Homo sapiens: one gene and its partners. The protein of the gene in region 3 interacts with the protein of the main gene of each other region in a pairwise test. Each region holds a gene or a part of one and is shown on either strand. Other genes may lie near its edges.

Region 1 (4,074 bases), on a different chromosome or scaffold from region 3:
CCAGAGGCCCCTGGAGTAGCCTCTGCCTTTGGGCACAGCCCATCATGTTCTGGGGGCACACACTGTGTGTGTTGGGGGGTGATGGGTGAGCCTGGATCTGAGGTTCCAGTGCTCAGGTGCTCACTGAGTAGTCTTGGCATCCTCTCTGAGGTCCACCTAATCCCCCCTGCCCCCCGTTTTCCTATCGGCCACTCCCCACCTGGTCTGCAAAGTACTGGGAAAATCATATTTATTAAGAGGTTTGACATATACTGTTGCCATATACAAAATCCCCAGTAGCTATCAACCTCCCTCCCCTGAGGCTCAGGACCCAGGGACCAAACTACCCCCAACCTCCCACATTGGCCCCTGGGCGAGCTTCCTGAGCCCCCACAGCCACCCTCCTCACCACCCTGCTACGGCAAGGATGCCACTGCCCCTGCCTTTTTTCCTGGGTGGCCTCATGTGGGGGGGACCTGTTGATCTTATCTGCTGATCTCGCAGGTTATGGATACCCACCTGCATCCACTGGGGCCGACCCAGCCTTCATTAGGACAGAGTTCCCATCCTCAGGGTGCCCTCCCTGGGAGAGGACATATGGTGGGCACGTATCGGGTAGGCATTCCCGGCACCGAGGCCGCCGGTGCCTGGGGCCGAAGATCTCCATGCACCTCTTGCCCACCAGGTAGAAGACTTCACTGAGGTTGAGCAGGATGCAGATGGCAGCTGTGGTCACCATGAAGTAGGTGAAGACCTTCTTCTCCGTGGGCCGGGAGATGTAACAGTCCACAGTGTGGGGGCAAGGCTCCACGGAGCAGGCCACCACGCGGGGCATGTCATAATCCTTGTAGAGGCGGTGGAAGATATAGAGGAAGCCAGCATCCACGGCGGCCTTGAAGATGAGGCTCAGCAAGTACGTCCACCACAGTCCGCCCCGCTTCTTGCTCAGGTTGTCGTACAGGGACGGGGCATTGGGCCCGTGTTTCAGGTGGTGCTTGCGCTCGCGTTCCTCGCGGTAGGCCACGTGCATGACCACGAGCAGTGAGGGGCACGTGACCAGGATGAGCTGTAGGGCCCAGAGGCGCACGTGGGACACGGGGAAGAACTCGTCATAGCAGACGTTGGGGCAGCCGGGCTGCTTGGTGTTGCAGACAAAGTCCTTCTGCTCATCGTCCCACACCTCCTCCGCTGCCACCACGTACACCAGCACACGAAAGATGAACACCACAGACAGCCAGATGCGGCTCAGCACTGTGGAGTACTTGTTCACGCCACTCAGCAGGCCCTGCAGAAATGCCCAGTTCATGCTGGCTGTGTCCTGGGTGCTGCACGTGGAAGGTCTATACCTGGGTGCTACCTGCCCACTCAGGCCTTGGGAGCCTTGAGGCCTGGGGGAACCTGGAGATGGGCACCCTTAATGCTGGTGCGATTGACAAAATCTTTTCACAATCACCGTGTCATCATGTCTTCACTCCCAATGACTTGGTAGGGTAGGGATTGCCCCTGTCCTCATTTCACAAAGAGTAAGTGAAGGCCCAGAGATACCTGCCCAATGGTCCACAGATGGAAGTAGCAGAGCTAATCTTGCACTTTGGTCTTCAGGTTCCAAAATCAGGGTCTACCTTATTCTACAAGGTAATAGATACATGTGAAGACAATCATCCTGCATGGATATGCCAGCCAACCTCTATTACCCCAAGTTTCAGCCCATGTCTTCTAAAGAGACCGTAGGAAGGCTTGAATTGGACGATCTGCTCTCCCATCAGCTGCCAGGGCTGGGCCAGGGCAGGAGGGGTGGGAACGTATCCTTATCAGTTGTCAGATCCATCCCACTTTTACTGAACACCAACAAGAGCCTGGCCCCGTGTTGGGGACGTTCACATCAGCCCCTTGGTAAATCCCAGAACAATCTGCATCCTTACTCCTTGCCTCTGGCTCCAGGAAGGTTCTCAGCCCTGGCATTCCCTCCCAAACTAAACAGAGGTGCTTTGGAATCACGGGGACTTGATATCATCCCTGCCAACCCGTGTACTGGTGCTGGGGCCTGAGGGCTGACTGTCTTGACCACAGTGGGTTCCTCTGGAATTCCAACCATTCCAGCTTTAGGAAGGACTGAGGATGGATTCTGGCATGGTCTGGACCCCCCATTTACTTTCTCTGGGGGCACCCCCTCCTCTGTCCATTTAGTGGCTGTTTGCTAGCCGCATTTCCATTATTTCCTCTCAGGCCCCTCTCCTGTGGACTCTGACCTCCACACCCCCTTGTCTGGAGTCCCCATCAGGCCCCATGTCCAACCCTCCCCTCCTCCTACCCTCCTCCTTCCCCATCCCCAATCCCTGACTCTGCTCTCAGCCTCTTCAGACATCGTGTGCCTGGGACACTTTCAGAGCAAGAGGCATCGCCTGTACCCAAATGGTCTATTTACCTGTCTTATTTTTTTGCCAGGCTGTCAGCTGCTAGAGGGCAGGCTCTTCACCTCTGTCTCCCTAGCACCTAGCACTGGCCTGGCCCAGTGAACACACAATAGATGTTTGTTAAACTGAACTGAAACCCATTTCTTCCTGATACCCCCTCTTCCCCAATCTTCTGTCGTCCCTTAGGTCAGCCAGGACATTCCTTCTCCTCCTTGGCACTTCCCTGGGGATCCTCTAGGGACACTGACCCTCTGGCTCCCTCCCTGAAGCCCAGCCCACAGCCTGAGGTCCCTTGGATATCCTCAGCTCAGCTGGTTGCTTGCTTCCTGGCCAGCCTCCTGCCCTATTCGGTCCTCACCCTTCTTGGGTCCAGTAGCTGCTTCCTTGTCCTTGGGCTTGTCTGTTTGCCTCAGGACCTCCCGGAGGCAGCTTTTGTTCCTCTCTCCCTTGCTGGGTGGGGCTTTCTGGGCCAATGAGCCAAGCGAGAGTGATTGGGTGGGCAGGCAGGAGGGCGGACTTCCCCGGGCACATACTCAGAGCAAACACCTGCGGCTCTTCTCTCCTGGCCCACGCCTCCTCTCTAGCCTGGCTGGGTATGGCTGAGCCTGGCTCCCAGGCAGGCAGGTATGTGGGTGAGACTGCTGTGTGGGGTTCAGGAGCCTGATATCATTATGCCTAGGCCTAGGACAGCACCAGTGGGATTGACCCTGTCCCCTTCCCATTGCCTCCTTACCCTGCCTCCTTGCCCTCTCTCCTGCCCTTTTCCTGGGAAGCCTGATACTGAGGTCTCAGCAGCTGACATCTACGGAAAGGGGCAACCTTAATTTAGTGCAGGAACGCATCCCATTCTGGTGGTGGGATATTTCTGGGACTGGAGTCTGGAAGCTCTTGGATTGTGTAGGAAATGGGAGGGGTCAACTATGACTTTTCTAGACCAGGGCACCCATAGCCTTGGTGGAGGCAAGGAATGCAGGTCAGCAGCATGAAATGCCCCAGTTAGCACAGGGCCAGGCACAGCATCGCTGTCCATCCTCTGTGGGTCCTGGGGAAGGCCTCCAGGGAGGCTGGAGTGTGACCTCACATATGCTGGTGGGGGGCCTGGGACCTGTGTTCTGGCTGGGATGATGAAGGTTAATGTGCAGCTAGGGAGGGGCCTTCTGCCTCGTTTCTCACAGGCATTATCAAGCACTTCCTAATACCAATGATTAACATTTATGTGTCCTTTTACAGCTGGCTAGCCCTGTCCACAGCCATGAGCTCATCAGTCCTCAGCACAACCCCACAGGCTAGGTATTATTAACCCATTTTGGAGAGAAGCTTAAGTTACTTTCCCAGAGTCCCGGTGGAACTTGGATTCGACACAGGCATTCTAAGTTCATGAACTTCCCACTGCAACATGGACTAAGCTCCATTCTCTCTGCAGACAACCCACAGGACTAAACTTGCCATGGGGGATAAAGGCTAGATGGGAGCATGAGCAAGTAGCACGTCCCCTGGAGTACTGGGGGCCCCCTTTCTGGAAGAGAGGATGCCCCTCACAGGCTGGATCAAGTGCAGCTCTTCACGGGGGCAGAGAGATTGACACCATGAACGTGTGAGGGTCACGAAGGCCGCACAACCAGAGGGCACCTGGAACCAGCAAATGAGTTGACTTTTATTAAGTTCTGACAGTGGGCCACAC
Region 2 (3,380 bases), on a different chromosome or scaffold from region 3:
GTGGGGGGCACAATCAGTGACCGAGCCCTGGCTCCCATCTCCAGGGTACCTCTGCCAGACACCAGGCTCTGGTACCTCCTACCCTCTGGCCCCCAGCAGGGCCTATAGGCTCCTCCATGTAAACCCCCTCACCCTACTGCCCCCACCCCACCTGCCTGACACCTCTTACCTGGGCACGGCCCCCAGTCTGCACCCTTCCCACGTCTGCTCCCCACCATGGCCAGAAGGGTTTTGGAAACCATTTTTCCTCTCCCCCAGGGGCTCTGAACACACCATCTCACCATTTAGGAACATGTTCAGTTCTTTCTGCTGAGGCCTGTGCTCAGCTGTCCCTGGCATCAGACCTCCCTTCCCTGGAGCCCCATGGGGGGTGTGTCCTCCTGGCTCTGCCCTTCTTTGTCCTGACACTGGGCGGGGCGGGGGTGGGTCTGTCTGCCCTGCTGGATGCGAGGGCCCTGAGAACAGACCACCATCTGTTACCAGCACAGCGAGCTCGTCCATCTGCTCTACAAGTGTTTATTGAGCACCTGTATGTGGCAGGGATGGTTGTAGGCATCTGGGTACAGCAGTGAACAAAACCAGGAAGGCCCTGCCCCGCAGAGGCACATGAACAGGGCAGTGCACAGTGACCACGTGGCATTTCGGGTGGTGGTGACTGCGGTGGGGAAGACAGCAGGGGCGCTGTCGAGGGAGACGAGGGCTGGGTTGGGAGGGGCAGAGGCCCAGGCCCAAGGGTCAGAGCTCACCTGGCTTCCCCAACTGGGATGGGGCCATGTGGCTGCAAGGCAAGGCCCCAGTTCCTGAAGGGCCTGGGGTGTGAAGGGTTTCTCCCCCTGCTGGGAACGCTCGGCCTTGCGCCACTCAGCAAGGCCCCTTCCAACCTGCATCTGACCACCAGGCAGAGAGTGTGTCTGGGGAGCCCCACAAAACACCCCCCAAACTTCGCCCCGCCAGCCCCCCTCACCTCCCCTGCTGGGCATTGGTGCGCAGCAAAAGGCACTTGAAGCTGCCTCTGAGGTTGGGGTCCCCAGAGGTTATGGTGATGGCACAGGGTGGGTGTCATCAGGGAGCCCAGCCCCTGGTACTCAGTGGTCTCAGCTCAGTAGTTGGGTGCAGCAGCAGCAAGGCCCAAGGCAGGGTCAGTAGTGCTCCAGCTTGAGACTCCTGTACAGGCAGCACGTGAAGATCATGCCAAAGACCTGTGTGCAGAGCCGGGTGGGCGTAAGCAGACGTCATGGGGCCACCAGCCACCGCCCTGCCCCGTGTCCCCAACAAGATGACCGCCACCCCCATGTGCCCTCACCTGCACACAGGCAATGCCGATCCCCACAGCCCCAATGACCCTCAGGTGCTCCTGGATGAAGGTCTCCAACTTGGTGATGCAGCCGCCCTGCGGGGCGCGGATGGGTGTTGAAGGCGGGCCCAGGGGGCACCTCCCACTGGCCCCTACTGCCTCCAGCCTCCAGGGTGTGGCCAAACCCACCCCTAGCACCTAGGCAGCCAGGCCACCAACAGCTCAGCCAGCCACTGGGCTGCCCACCCACTTCCTCGTAGATATTGGAGGTGTGGTCTCACTGCCCACATCCGGCCACTGGGGTGACCCCCCACCTCCTGGTAGATATTGGAGGCGTGTCCCACTGCCCACAGCCAGTCACTGGGGTGCCCCCCCACCACCTCGTAGACACTGGAGGCATGATCCCGCTGCACACCCACCTCCACCTTGTAGATGTTGGAGGCATGGTCTCGCTGCCCACAAAGAGCCACCACCGTCTTGCAGCAGCTGTCTGGGACCACACGGCCACCGGCCTCCTGTGAGCGGATCCACTCACTGTCTCGCCAGTCCTGTGAGTTGTTGCTGCCACAGCAGTGGAACTGCATCAAGAACAAGGCTGGGGTTGAGACCTGGGGCCAGAGGCTCCTGCAGAGGTCCAGGGAGGCCCTGGGGATGCACGCGCCCTCCCAGCACCACCCACCCACCTCCTGCTGCAGCTGGTCCACAGCGCTGGTCACAGCCTCATGGCCCGGCTGGTGGTAGCGCTTGGTCATGGTGTCCTTCAGGTTCTCCTTGAGCTCCGTGTTCAGCTGGGGTTGGGGTGCAGGAAACTTCAGCCTCAGTCTAAGACCTTCCAAGGTGGGGCTGGCAGAGCCCCAGGATGGCCGGTGGGGAGGCCCGGGGCCCAGCTCAGAGCCACAGGGAAGGGCTGAGGTCACACCTCGGCATGAGGGGAGGTTGGGTGGTGCCAGGACCGTCACCAGGGTGACAATGAAGTGCGGCAGAGGCAGAGAGAGCTTCTGGATCCCCTGGACACCTGCCTGACCCCATGTGCCCCTGCAGAGACCTAGACCCCATCTCCAGGGCCCAGTGGCACATTGGTTAGCTCTGGGACCATGGGGGTGGGGGTTGGGGCTAGCCACGCGTGTGCATGTGTGTGTGTCCGCCCCGCCTGTGCATGTCTGTGTCTCTGAATGGCCTGCCCAGGCCCCTCACCTGCTGGTAGTAGGCGTAGGCGAGGATACCAGCGATGATCTCCAGCAGAAAGATGATGAGGAGCAGGATGAAGTACTGGGGGGGGCAGCACAAGGGCACCCTTGTTCTGAGGCCTAGTGCCTAGACCTAGTGCACCTCAGAGCAGAGTCCCCACCCCGGCTCCCCAGGCTCCAGGTGGGGGCTGAGGGGCGGCCACCCTCCCTGAAGCTTTCTTGCGGAGCTGGTGTCTTCCCTCAGCTGGTCCAGCAGGAACGTGGGGACCCACAGGACTAGGCAGGTGTGGAAGGACCGTGACCCCCCCCCCAGGTGAGCACAGCAAGGCACAGGTTCAAAGCCTGCAGCGACAACCTCCTTGGGCCCATCTGCACCACCCCCACCCCGTGGCCCTGCGCCCTCCTGACCAGGCGCAGCAGGTTCCGACGCTCCTTGAAGGTGGCGCAGCAGCCCAAGACCCCAGTCACCATGACGACAGTGCCCGCCACCACCAGGATGTAGGCTGTGGCCAGGTAGGTGCCTGAGGCCAGCAGGCTGATGTAGTCACTCTTGAGGGCCAGCGTCCAGATGCCCACTGCCATGACAGCCAGGCCAGCCAGCTACAAGCAGTACACAAAGGTCATCGCATCTGCCCAGGTCTGATGGTGGCCCGGGAGGGGTGGGGGTGGGGGTGGGGGCAAGGCGACCCCTCCTCACCCAGAAGCAGCAATTGTAGGTAAACAGCAGGTACTTGAGGCAAACGGTGCCACATGTTGTCTTCTTCTCGTTGAACTCACCCATCCTGGGGCTGAGGAGGCAGGGGAGGGGTCAGCGGGGCCACAGCACCGGGCCCCTGACTGGGAGACGGATAGGAGGGGACACAGGGCCAGGCGCGGTGGCTCACGCCTGTAATCCCAGC
Region 3 (3,967 bases):
ATCTGCAGGGAGAGAAATGGGAACAGTGCGAAAGGAGAGGTGGATACAGTCGTTTAGAAGATTCACAGACAAGAGAACCTGAATGCACAGGAATCATACAGAGAAACTTGGACCCCAAACCCTCATCTCCCATTGTAATCTTTTTCTCAGAATAATATACCATTGAATTTTCAGGAAAAATAATGCTCCATGAATTATTTGACAAAGACTACAAACTTCAACAATGAGTTCAATCAGTCTTCATACTTTACATTGAAATAGCATATCTCAACTTGGAATTCTGATCTTTGCAAATAGAAGATATATGAGCACTCCCTTCTCTTTCCCCACATTCCTGTACCCCAAGCTGCACATCCTAGACTGTTATATTGAGGATCTTTTAAATGCTTTACCTTTGCAGTGATAGGTTTTGTCATTCCCTTGAAAATCCTGAGAAGCTTTTTGAAGGTTTAATTCCGCATAGGTTATTTCCTGTTCAGTTGCTAAAATGGAGTTTTTATTGCCTTTAGGTTTTCGTTGCTGCCTCTTTGGGTTTGGGGGCAGATTCAGGTCTGAGTAGATTACTCCTTGGTTATCCATCTCTGCAGTGTGTGATGTCAGGGACTGTACTCTATAATAACAGTAGTTAAGAAGTTAATAAATGGTTTATATACAGGATTCCCTAGTGCAATTAAAAGGGTGAGGTGGAGAACGAGTATTGGAGCTCATTTTGCATTAAATAATCTAAAGTTCTTTCTCTGATTTTCTTCAAGCCTAAACACGTTTCTTATGAATATTTGTTTTAAAAAAAGATTTTTAGGCCGGGCGCGGTGGCTCACGCCTGTAATCCCAGCACTTTGGGAGGCCGAGGCATGCCGATCACGAGGTCAGGAGATCGAGACCATCCTGGCTAACACGGTGAAACTCCGTCTCTACTAAAAATACAAAAAGTAGTCGGGCATGATGTCAGGCGCCTGTAGTCCTAGCTACTCGGGAGGCTGAGGCAGGAGAATCTCTTGAACATGGGCGGCAGAGGTTGCAGTGAGCGGAGATTGTGCCACTGCACTCCAGCCTGGGCGACAGAGTGAGACTCCGACTCAAAAAAAAAAGATAAATTTTCTGCATTTGACAAAATATTATTGCTGGGGCAATGAGAAGCAATAAATTACTAAGGAATAAAGAAGTTCAGGAATAAAAATATATTTCTTAAAGTCTGATGTTTTACCTGTGTTAAAAATTAAAATGTTGTATTAGAAAAACTTCTGCACTCATTTTTATGTTAATTTTGAAATCCAGTAATGGTTAAGACTATGTGGTCTGCACATGAGTAATAGTAAAGTTGACATATATATATATAAAAATTTCTTGCACTACATTACTTTTAATTAGTAATTTATACACATTAATGAAAATCAATAGAGGTAATTAAATGGTCTTTTCTTAATGGCTGAAATGTTCTAAGAAATTATTAAAAATTATTTATTAAAAATTATAAAAAATTAAATATTTGTATATGACAGAAAATGCTATGTGACACAGTTAACTTATGCATAACCTAAATAGTATTAGGAACACTACATAAATTGTTAATACTTACAGAAGTATTGGTAATTTAATTAGTAATTGGTAATTTATTTCCTGGCTAAATTATGAACCAAAAAATGATAAATAAAAGTATAGGTAATTCATGTTAAAGCACATTTCATTTAAACTTATAGAATGATTTTATGGTTGTCAAAGTGAGTAAAGGCCACTTTAGTTGTATAAGTACTTGTAAAATTTCAGATAATGTAATTAAATCATTTAGTCAATGGGCTCTGGAGTCAGTGAGATCTAGAATTAATTCTAGCTTTGACACTTATAATGTGCGACCTTTAAAAAGTTATTCTATTTTTAATAACCCAGTTTGTTAATCTAAAATGGGCATAAGAACATATAAAACGTTGCATGTAAAACATTTACCACTCAACCTGGCACTTAAAGTTCTCAATAAGCATTAGCTACTTTAATTATTATTTTAGTCACAATTGTTATGTTACTGTTTCTGATTCATGTCAGTTAAAGCATGGAAAATAAATCTTCAGATAAGTCTCCTATGTCCATGCGCTACATCTTTTTTTGCAATATTTTGATCAATTTTTAAAAAGTATTTTTATTGCTTTGTAATACCTTTAGCATTTTATGTAATCTACCTCATTCTGATTTTTATTAAAAATAAAAACTGCTTTTCTCTAATCTACGTGTCTGAGGAATTGTATTTGGCTTTCATCAATTGATTGATTTATTTTAATAATCTTTAATGGCTAAGCTAAATATAAATTATTATTCAAAGATACATGATGTACTGATTACAAAATACAAAATTAATTGTTCATTATTGTGATGTTAATAGCTTTCCCTTAAACGATATTGATCAACAAACCCACTAGATTTCCACAAACAATAATTTGAAAACTTTAAGAAATCCTTCAACATATTTCATATTTTAGGTTTTTACCCTGAGTTATTCAAATGAAGACAGCAATATTCTACTTTGATTTTATTGTATATTAATTATACCTCCTTTGTATCATATTGAGCACTTGAAATCACCCACTAAATGAGGTAGGCTAGTAGAGAGTTGGAGAGTAGCAATACATACCTTCTGTCCCCAGAAAGTCACACATCCTTTAGTGGAGAGGCCAGGTTAGTCTCATAAAAAGGCCTGCTATAGCTGTGTAATAAAAGGTGAAATTTAAAGGCATAAATCCAAGACAAGAACAAACAATGCCTGCAATCTTCGCAGACTGCCCTGTGAAGGCTCAGAGTGAGTCAAGAGTGGAAAAAGTAGATTTCTCATCAACGTGTTACTAAGGTTTGAACAGGAAATTCTACACATGGGCTATTGTGAAATCAGTTTTATCTCATCACACACCTCCAAAATATAGGATACTTGGTCTATTAAAAGTACAAGGTTGACTTTGAAAGTGTGTCATTTAGTTGGTTCATTTTTCAAGTGCCTATGAGAATTTTTTTTTTTTCTGTCTTGATCACGAACATTGTCAACCCTCACCTTGTTAAGAGTGCCTTTTAGACTAGGTTGCTAAATCTTAACATTGCATACTTCTTTTCTTTATATTATTTTATTATGTCACTTCCATTATAATAGAAAACATTCTAAAACTCATAGTAATATTATCAACTGATATCTACTGATTTTTTCCTTAATTATTCTGAAAAATTACTGCAGTAATTACTCAATTGATTGTAGCTGGCACAAAAAGCATCATTGCCAAAGTTATATTATTAACTTCTCTTAGTTCTTAAATTTTTGCACTTAATTTTTAAAAATAGATTATTTAATCTTCAGATTACCCTTGATAAAAATATCTTGGATAGGTAAAATATTAATCAATTTTGAAATATATTAGCATACCAGAAATTGAAATATTAAATAGCTATTCATTACATTCTTCATTTATTCATCCTCCGCCATAACAAATTATGTCGACTTTCATAGAAATATTTAGTTGTAAATGACAAAAACTGAAGTCAAACTATGTATGGGGAAAAAGTAATTTTAAAATCTTACTAGGAGGAAAGTCAGTAAATTGGCAGAATAGGTGGTCCCCCACACATATGCCCCCACAGCAACAATAATTTTTCAGCCATCCACAGACAAAAGTTCCTTTGAGGGAGTTTGGAATTCAAGTAGGAGTTTGTAAAATGCCAGTGGAACCCAAGACCTAGGAAGGTTGTTTTAGGGAATAGATTTGCATCCAAGTGGCAGACTTACCAACAGTGATTCCATCTCCAGACCTGAAAAGGGACCCATCCTCCTGTGCTTGCCTTCAGCCCCATTTAGGCCTTGGTCATGCTGCCAAAACCATTTGCCCAGGGGCCCAGGAGGAGACTCACACACTAGTGTCTCAGGAGGTAGGCATATCAACTGTAGTCTCAATGTAGACCCTGAAACAGCCCTCTAACTTGGCTTTAACTAGTGTCAGCC
Region 4 (3,500 bases), on a different chromosome or scaffold from region 3:
AGTAAATATCTTTACTGTAGTGCAAAGCCAGAGGGAAGATTCCTGGCCTCCAGCTGCATAAATGCTGGAGGACACTGTTCTTTTTACTCCCTTAGGTCCTACATTTAATTCAACCTATAGTATTCATTGAGGGTCTGTGATGTGCTAGACAGCATGCCAAGTGCCAGGGCCACATTGTCTGTGCCTTCAGGGGTCTCACAGTCCAAGTACAGGAAGTGACTAAAAAGATCGTTTTATAATAGTGTGGTATGTTCTAGTGTGTTGTACAGTGGCAAAGGAGGGGCATCTGAGCTACCTCAGGTGAAGATGAAGGCATGAAAGGCCTGTTAAGTGAAGTGATGCTCAGGATGAGTTTTGAAATGAGGTAGGAATGTTCTAAATAAAAAAGCATGGGACATTAAAGGATCTGCAAAGTAGTGTACTGTGGCCTTCCCATGCTTTGTGGTGACAGCTGGCAGAGATAAGGCTAAAAAGGAAGGCAGGCGTCAGGTCATGAAGGCTTTCCCACTCTTCAATAAGGCACCAAAATATTTTAATCAGCAGATTGACACAGTTAGATTTTTCCTTTTAGCCTTTCTGTGTTTTGGTGGAGAAAGCCAGGAGGAAGAGATCAGTTAGAAGGTGTTACAATAGTCCAGGTGAGAAATGAGGGAGACTTGAACTAGGGCAGTGTCGGGAAAATAAGGAAGATTTGCGTGAGATTTAAGAGGTATTCTCACTCAATAAGAGTCCATGACTGATTGGGTGGTGGTGAGGAGAGCATGACTCCAAGCTCCAGTTGAGTGATTGGGCAGATGGATGGCGGTGTCAGTCATGGGATGAGAAACCCAGGAGAATGAACCCTCTGTGGAAGATGGAAGCTCTGCAGCCAGACTAGGACCGTTGGGTGGGGCATCCTGATCATCCTGTCAAAGACAAGGTGGTTCACAGCCAGACCCAGAAATTTTGATAAGAAAATCTAGGCAAGAGCAGGCTGCCCTCCATTAAATTCTTCTCTGCCATTGCTAGGTTGAATGGAGTGAGTGCTGTTTATCTAACTTCCATTCGATTTGATTCCTACAAAAGCTCCTGAAGAGGCGATTCCATCCAGGTCACATCAGAATCAGTTTCTGGGTACCCACGCATGAGATTTCATTGCTTCTTTTATCACAGGAGTTGGTATCCTGTGATGATTACTCCAGATTTCTCTTTCTCCTTCTCTTCATTTATATCTTTAAATTTTTTTTAGATTGTTTAAATTTATTTATTTATTTTTATTTTTTATTTCCGTAGGTTTTGGGGGACCAGGTGGTATTTGGTTACATGAATAAGTTCTTTGGTGGTGATTTCTGAGATTTTGGTGCACCCATTACCCGAGCAGTGTACACTGTGCCCAATTTGTAGTCTTTTATCCCTCACCCCCACCACCTTTTCCATCAAGTCCTTGAAGTCTCTTCATTTATGTCTTATCTTCACCTCCTTTTCTCCTTTCCTTCCACCTGCTTCCTGGGGCAAGTTGCTGAGTGAGACGCTTCTTGCTACTTTCCTCTTGGCTGCTTTTTTAATGGAGAGGTTTTTGCATTTGCTGAGCAGAAATAAGATGAGTCAGCATCCACATGTGTCACCTGTTGCATAGTAGACTGTCTATTTCAAAGGTAAATGAATGTTCATTTTTCATTTTACAACCATATATCTTGCACAGAGTCAGATATGAGGAAATTCTGCGGGTATTTTGAGCTCATCACTAGGTAGTGGCAAAAGAACAGGGACTGACATTGATGCCTGTGGTGGGTCCACAGATTTCTTTGAGCCAGTTTCTTCGCTGATAAATGGAAACCAGTGCACTTTCTCTGTGTATCTCAGGTGCAAATGAGATTACATAAAAATAACTTGAAAAACATTTTAAAAGAATTATCTTATTTACAAATGATCAAAGTAAGGCATAGTGAGGTGACAGATTCCTGCCCTTCATTCGTCAACCAAATATGCTCAGGAACAAAAATTAGCACCTAAAGGTATTGCTGTCTTATTGTCAGGTCAATAACTCCTTTCTTCCATTAGGTCAAGTTTCAGAAGTTTCTGGATATAAAAGGTAAATGGAAGTGGGTATTTGTGGGGGAAAAATTATTTTTTTCTCTATACCCACATTCAATGCAGAACACTTCTTTGGCCGTGTGTGTGTGTGTGTGTGTGTGTGTGTGTGTTTTCCACACCAACCAATTATCTGCCACCAGCTGGGTGTCTTGCAATCCAGTTCAATTCTGACATGATCTGCCTGGAGTTAGTGCAGACCCCATAGTTTAAGGGTTCAGCCCCACAAAACTTCCCTCATTTAAGATGCCAGTTACGGGAGGCTGAGGCAGGCGAATGGTGTGAACCCGGCAGGCAGAGCTTGCAGTGAGCCGAGACCGTGCCACTGCACTCCAGCCTGGGCAACAGAGCGAGACTTAGTCTCCAAAAAAAAAAAAAAAAAAAGATGCCAGTTCAGTTACAAGTCTAGGTTGTCACTTGTGCTTCTGACCAACCAGCTGCAAATTGGAGGTCTCCAAAACCCCCACCTTGGGTTTGGTCATTTGCTAGAATGGCTCACAGAGCTCAGGGAAGCATCACATTTATGGGCACACTGTAGAAAATAGAGGATATCAAAAGCCAGATAAAAAGGTACATAGGGCGGACACGTGGGACAGAATGTGGGCATCCATGTCCTTTCAGGTGTGCCACTCTCCCTTGTAAATGTGTTCAGCCACCTGGGAGCTCTCCAGACTCTGTCTTTTAGGGATTTTTATGGAGATTTCCTCACATAGGCATGGTGGATTATTAGCTTGCTTTCCAGCCTCTCTCCCCTCTGGAGGATGGGGGTGGAGGTGGGGCCAAAAGCTTCAGATTTCTTCTTCTTCTTTTTTTTTTCTCCAGACAGTTTTCACTATATTGCCTAGGCTGATATCAAGCTCCTGGCCTCAAGCGATTCTCCCTGCTCAGTCTCCCGAGTAGCTGGGACTACACGCATGCACCATCCCACTCCACCACACTGGCTGAAAGTTCCAAGCTTCTAGCTGCGGCTTGGTCTTTCTGATGATCAGCCCCCATCCAGCAGCCCGCCAAGAGTTGCCTCATCAGAAATAAAGACACTCCTATAACCCAGGAAACTGCAAGAGATTTAGGAGCAGGTCTGTGTCAGGAGCTGGAGTAAAGACCAAATGTTAGAGTAAAAGATGTACCCGGCGCCCCTGTCACTCAGGAAGTAACAAGGGTTTTAGGAATTCTGTGCCAGGAACTGGGGCAGAGACTAAACAGTATACATATTGTTATTATATCACAGTATTGGAACTTTATGCCCTTTCCCTTGACTTTTCTAAACACAGGCCCTGCCATGTGTCACTGCCACAGTGTTTTCCTCTCAGGGTTGGGGCCATTACTCTGCTTAAGCCAGCCTGTGTGACTACCACACCCTGTGCATGGGTTAGGAGTTAATGATGGCACCTGCCTTATTCTGGAAGCTGGTCTCTAATTAGCCACTGCAT

Evidence for each region. The genes of interacting proteins can lie anywhere in the genome.
Region 1: the proteins of KLRC1 (region 3) and GJB4 interact in binary tests that used the Homo sapiens proteins (3 or more experiments, as listed by UniProt).
Region 2: the proteins of KLRC1 (region 3) and CD151 interact in binary tests that used the Homo sapiens proteins (3 or more experiments, as listed by UniProt).
Region 4: the proteins of KLRC1 (region 3) and C3orf52 interact in binary tests that used the Homo sapiens proteins (3 or more experiments, as listed by UniProt).

The regions. Positions count from the first base shown.
Region 1 is NC_000001.11:34,758,466-34,762,539, reverse strand, and holds GJB4 (gap junction beta-4 protein), read right to left. Parts: upstream 2,801-4,074; 5' UTR 2,752-2,800; intron 2,687-2,751; exon of another isoform or gene 2,405-2,686; intron 1,608-2,404; 5' UTR 1,286-1,607; coding exon 485-1,285; 3' UTR 213-484; downstream 1-212. UniProt on the Homo sapiens protein: Structural component of gap junctions. Gap junctions are dodecameric channels that connect the cytoplasm of adjoining cells. They are formed by the docking of two hexameric hemichannels, one from each cell membrane.
Region 2 is NC_000011.10:835,952-839,331, reverse strand, and holds the end of CD151 (CD151 antigen), read right to left. Parts: intron 3,270-3,380; 5' UTR 3,263-3,269; coding exon 3,179-3,262; intron 3,082-3,178; coding exon 2,890-3,081; intron 2,564-2,889; coding exon 2,489-2,563; intron 2,083-2,488; coding exon 1,978-2,082; intron 1,873-1,977; coding exon 1,714-1,872; intron 1,391-1,713; coding exon 1,304-1,390; intron 1,200-1,303; coding exon 1,140-1,199; 3' UTR 501-1,139; downstream 1-500. UniProt on the Homo sapiens protein: Structural component of specialized membrane microdomains known as tetraspanin-enriched microdomains (TERMs), which act as platforms for receptor clustering and signaling.
Region 3 is NC_000012.12:10,450,578-10,454,544, forward strand, and holds the start of KLRC1 (NKG2-A/NKG2-B type II integral membrane protein), read right to left. Parts: upstream 2,801-3,967; 5' UTR 2,621-2,800; intron 611-2,620; 5' UTR 580-610; coding exon 393-579; intron 3-392; coding exon 1-2. UniProt on the Homo sapiens protein: Immune inhibitory receptor involved in self-nonself discrimination.
Region 4 is NC_000003.12:112,103,389-112,106,888, forward strand, and holds part of C3orf52 (TPA-induced transmembrane protein), read left to right. Parts: intron 1-3,500. UniProt on the Homo sapiens protein: Has a role in LIPH-mediated synthesis of 2-acyl lysophosphatidic acid (LPA). LPA is a bioactive lipid mediator involved in different biological processes, and necessary to promote hair formation and growth.